Linked DNA regions of Homo sapiens. The protein of the gene in region 2 interacts with the protein of the main gene of each other region in a pairwise test. Each region holds a gene or a part of one and is shown on either strand. Other genes may lie near its edges.

Evidence for each region.
Region 1: the proteins of KRTAP12-1 (region 2) and RBPMS interact in binary tests that used the Homo sapiens proteins (3 or more experiments, as listed by UniProt).

What each region holds. Positions count from the first base shown.
Region 1 is NC_000008.11:30,569,541-30,572,756, forward strand, and holds the end of RBPMS (RNA-binding protein with multiple splicing), read left to right. Parts: intron 1-1,096; coding exon of another isoform or gene 1,097-1,190; 3' UTR 1,191-2,716; downstream 2,717-3,216.
Region 2 is NC_000021.9:44,681,076-44,683,471, forward strand, and holds KRTAP12-1 (keratin-associated protein 12-1), read right to left. Parts: upstream 1,089-2,396; 5' UTR 1,049-1,088; coding exon 758-1,048; 3' UTR 501-757; downstream 1-500. UniProt on the Homo sapiens protein: In the hair cortex, hair keratin intermediate filaments are embedded in an interfilamentous matrix, consisting of hair keratin-associated proteins (KRTAP), which are essential for the formation of a rigid and resistant hair shaft through their extensive disulfide bond cross-linking with abundant cysteine residues of hair keratins.

The DNA of each region.
Region 1 (3,216 bases), on a different chromosome or scaffold from region 2:
CAGGCTTTTGAAGGCCTTGAAGGATGTGTTAGGGATTTGGAAGCCACTGGAAAGATGAGCAGGGGTGGAGAGTGATTTAGGAATGTTGTTGTCATGCTGCCCAAAGCAAAGTAGATGAAGATTCGAGGTAGAAGCACACTTCTGCACAGGTGGCCCTAAGATGGTGATGGTGGAGTGGAAGGAGCAGATGAGCCAAGAGGACAGGAAATGAGGTCGGTGTAAAGGGCAGGGACAGGCCAGGGGTGCACAGGGATGAGTCTGGATTTGGCTGCCTTGAGGGCTGTCTACAGTAAGCATACTTAAGCGGATGTGCTAGAACTAATGTCATTATTTATTTGCCACAACCTAAAGAGACAGGCAAGTATTAGTCGCCCGTCACAGAGAAGGTCCAGGGTGTCCAGGGCCCACTGTGGAAAGCTCTGCCTGGCTTGCCCCTGCTCCGCCGGCCGTTACCCGCTACCCACTCATACTGTCGTCCAAAAACTGGGCAGTGAAAAGTCACAGGTCAGATACAAATTGGACAGATTTGGTGTGAACATTTACAAGCTCATCCCGTACGCTATGTTTCAGTGGTCACCTAAATATTCTCATTTCAGGACTTTTTAAAACACATTTTCCCAAATCTAACTTGGGACAAAATCTAACTTGGGACATTTAAATAGGTTATCAATAATTATCTGTTTATGGCCTCTTTCGGCACACAAATAAGCATCTCCCTGTACAAAATTCTAGTGTATGCTGAGCTGATTGATTGCCTTCTGCATACACCTTTTCTACAACTTCTCAAACGTGTGTGACATGCTGGTAAGATGGCAGGAAAAGGAGTGACTGAATAATACAATATAGCTGAGATGTGTTTCAAGAAAACCTCTGGGCCAGGGTAGGGGTTTGTGAGCGGGAGCCAAGGACTTGCCCCATGTTTCTAATCAAGGTGAGACCACTGACACATGTGGTCAGCAAATATGTTCTATACACACATCCGCACACTGTCATCTAACCCATCCGTTCTCCCATCCACAGCATCTCCAGGACAAAGCCATCGCAACTAGGGAGGGGTTGACACCTGCTCTCCTAACATGTTTTCTTTCTGTTTCAGGCTTGAAAAACCCTTGCCCAGTTTTGATCCCTTCAAGACTTTGTCACAGCCTCTATCACACATCTGTTTTTCTCGAAGAAAAAAATATAATTAATAAAAATGTTTTACTCTTTTACACTGTATAATTGTAAGAAATAGCGTATTATTTGTGAATGCATGGTCTGAAATTTCTGTACAGTTTGGAGATATTTTCAAACGAAACGTAAGAGAAGTCAACAATAAAACCAAGAAAAGTGAGTATTTTTATACCAAACATTTTAAGTATGCTGGGATGGACGATCTTACACTGGTTTGGATCACAGTTTTTGTTCTTGACTTTTGAATGCTTGTAATTAAAAATATCTATTTTTTTCCTCTGAAGTAAGTTGCATGTTTGAGGCATGTTTCCAAATATTATCAAAATATCCTGAATTGTATTGTGAATATATAGAAATCTGTGCCTGGCCGGAGTCCAGGGTAAATTAGTAGCATGGTGTTAGATGTTAGAAACAGAACTGTTATTTGCAGTGTTAGGTCTAGGATCCCAGTTCTAGTAGGACAGCCCTGCAAGACAATCAACCAGAAGCCTCCAGGAGCTTCTACCTATGGCTTATTCACAACTGGGCAAGAAAACATCATTGGTAAGAACTGCTGAGTGTGCCCTTAGAAAGCCCTAGTAGCTCCAGCTGTGACTATATCAACTGTGTGCCAAGTGTGACTTTGTACAGTTTTATGTTTCCACTCTCCTGTATGTGTAGCCACTCGATGCCTAACCTACCTTCCACAAGCCAGCCCCGCATCCCTGCTCCCGCAGTGTAAGTGCAGAGCCTGCCTCACTGGTAAGGGAAAACCTTGGCTTGGGAGGCCAGCCCTGGCCCTTGAAGGGGTTGGCTGTGCCCAGCCCACCTGGCTGCAGTGGGCAGCTCATGTCTGTATCTCCAAAGTGATGTTTGTTTGCAAAACACCGGCTGAACTGAGCTGGTGTTGCCAACTCTTGGCAGCACTGGGCCAAACCGACCACATACCATGAGCTCCCAAATGGCGTGTGCTCACTGTGAGACGTCCTGCCACACCCCACAGGAGACGGAGGCAGTGGGCATTTGGAACCAATTCTATTCAGACTTCGTCAAAGCCAAAGTCAGTCTGGTGTTGTCAGTTGACACATCTCCAGAGTTCATGACAGCTCAACCTCTCCCCTTGTACAGAAGCCATTTTTGTAAAACCACACTGACCTAAATTCAGCTGCCAAACACAGTCTTTCCTATTGATCCGCTCGGCTTATGTTGAAAATTTCAATGTCATGATTACCTGGTTGGTTTGGGTTTTTGTTTTGTTATTTTCCATTAGAAATATAAAGATGTCAAGAAGCTTTTAAAGGTCAACACAAAAAACCAAGGCCAGGAGTGAGGGGCTCTTTCTTACCGTAAATAAGGGGAAAAGGCAGTTAGCTCAAGGACTTGTGACGGATCCACTTTGGTGTTCAAGGACCTGCTTATGCCCTCAGTGCCAATCGGCTCTTGGTGAGATGACTGTACTCCTAAGGAAAATAGCCACTTCTGCAGTCTATTATGCTTTTATAACTGTTTAAAGGTACTTTTCTATTGTCATTTTTAAAAAATAAAGTGCTTATTCCAGCTGTCACACCATTGCTTGACAAATTCTTTTTTAGCAAGACCAACTACATGTATCCCACACTGCAGACAAGACGCCAGCAGATTTCATTCCCATTGTCAGGCTTCGGCAGAGCTAAGCAAGCATTGGCCATTGAGCTTAGGCACAAAGAGATTAAAGGAGGAAGCAGATACCGGGGAAAGCCAGAGAGTAAGTCTGCAAACGCACAACCACAGTGGCTGGTGACCCACAATGACACCAGAGGCAGAGGGACCTCAAGGGAGGCCCCTCATCTACCTCAGCCTACAAAGCTTGACTCAGGATTATCTGAATTATATTAAAATGTCACTTGGGTTTTCTGCTGACTTAAATATATCTTACGCCAGGCATGGTGGCTCACACCTGTAATCCCAACACTGGGAAACTGAGGCAGGAGGCTTGCTTGATCCCAGGAGTTTGAGACCAGCCTGGACAACACAGCAAGACCCTCAATTTTAACATTAGCCAGGAGTACTAGCACCTGTGGTCCT
Region 2 (2,396 bases):
CCTCTGTGTGTAAAGTATTTCATATGCCCCATAAATATGTAAACATATTATGTATCAATTTTTAAAAAGTGCCATATGTAGATCAGTGATGGGAGTGTGTGCTGCAGAACTAATCCAGTTCTGTAAACCTGAGATCCTCCGCGACCCGGGAAGCAGGACATCCACCAACCACATGGGAAAGCCCGATCCTCAGTGCTCTGAGGCTTTGGCCATCAATGCAGGGCTTGCTGGCCTGGAGCAGGAGTGGACAGCCAGTGGGGAAGCGAGGCCACTCCACCACAGGCGGGTAAGTCACCGCTGTGGCCACTGCAGCTGGGCCCCAGGAGCCCTGGGAGAGACCACATGGGCATCTGCAGCCGCGCCCTCCACCCGGGACACCACCTTCTGATGAGCACTGGGTGAAGGGATCACTGAAGAGGGTTTAGCAGCAAATTCTATGTAATCAGCAGAATAGATAGCGGGGAGTATAGAAATAAAAAAGAGAGACAAGAAACGCAGAGTTGCATGGGGAAAGCTGGTTTATTTGACTCTCATGGGGTCAGAGAATGACTCTGGGACCCCAGACTTCCCTGGGGGGATAGGCAAGTTCAGCCAGGGCTCCAGATCATTCTATTATATTCTCGATCCAGAATTCAGAGGGTTCACTGAGCATGCTTTTCACCTGCACCATGTGCAGAAGACCAACTGAGGACTCATCCAGGGAGTGTACAGGTGTGGCCTCATCTGCACTGGGAGCAGCGGGTCTGGAGATTCATGCTCAGCAGCAGGAAGGGGTGCTGCAGGAGATGGGTCTGCAGAGGACGCTGGTGCAGGAAGGCTGGCAGCACCCAGAGGACTGGCAGGAGGGAGCCGCATACACGACGGGCCTGCAGCTCACGGGCACGCACACAGAGGACTGGCATCTCACGGGCACACACACGGCTGGCTTGAAGCTCACGGGCACGCACACGGAGGACTGGCAGCCCACGGGGATGTAACAGGATGCCTGGCAGGGGCTGGGCGCGCAGCAGGCTGGCTGGCAGCCCGAGGAGCAGCTGGTGTGGCACATGGTGGCGTGTGGCTGGATAAGGTCGAGGCAGAGGGCAGTGATGTCTGGGGATGGCCTCCCTGGGTAGCCTTTATACCTGGACCCAGGCATCCCCACAGCACAGAAGCACACACCTGTTGTCTTCCTTGTTTTTCTTCCTCAAGGCTGTTTCCTGGAACTCAGTTTTCTGTCGTAGATGATGTTTTTTATCTGGCCCTTTGTTTCGTGACTAATTGCACCCTCTTCAAGCTCTTGTTACATTTGGAAACCTGCCCAAATTTATCAGTGATGCACAGGCAGTTTTAGCTCCACCTGCCTGATATCTGCCTCCCTTCGTTAGTTCTACGCTGAAGCAGACATGAGTGGTACCCAAAAGAGCTCCTCGAACCGCAACTTCTGTTGCATCAACCAGAAACTTTGGGGAAGAGACCAGAACTGAATATAGACAATGAAATCATACTGGGGAACCTGCTGGAGTGAGTGATGCAAAGCTGGCTACTCTATCAACTATACAGTTGAGATTTAGGAGATGCTCGTTTTCAGGCAGCCGTCAACCAGCAGTGCAGACTGTGCTTCCTGAGAGAGAAGAAACTTAGGAGATAAACTCCCATTTCCCAGCTCTCTGCTGGGGCAGGCTTCCAAAATGCAGTGTCACCTTCCAAAATGCAGTGTCACCAGCCGGAGTCAGAGCAGAATACAGTGACCCAACTCTGCCGAGGAGGAAGGGGCCAGCGCTCAAGCAGCTGAAGCCCTGGAGTCCGAGGAGCAGAGAAGCGGAAAGAAGGATCCGTGTGGAGAGCAGGCCCCACACTGTGGAAGCTGACTGTGAATCTGTGGAACGGGGCAGGGCTGTGCATTCCCAGGGCAAGGCAACCACAGGCTCACCAGAGAGAAGCTGCTAGAGGATTGAGAGTGAAGCCCCCCTCCAGTCCCCACGTCGACATCCAGCCGAGACCCCCTACAGCCCGGCACCAAATGAGTAAGGACCACAGACTACAGTGAGACCCGCCTAGGCCAGCCCGAACAAAGCCTAAACCAATTCAGAATAGGATTTTTAGGGAAGACAGTTTGGAATGTGAGTCCCACCAAGATACAGAGTGTTCCAAGTTGTAGATGCTTCCCAGAGATCCACCCTAGCAAAGTGTTGAACAAAAACTGCACAAGATTAAGGTCATTCTCCAGTAACTGACGGCTAGAACAAAAATCAGAAACATGATACAGCTCAGAGTCTGTAAATGCATTATTATGATACCTCATACACAATCAAAATCATCAGATATTGACCAGGCACGGTTGTTTATGCCTGTAATCCCAGCACTTTGGGAGACCAAGATGGGAAGATTGCTTGAGGCTAGGAGTTTCAGACCAG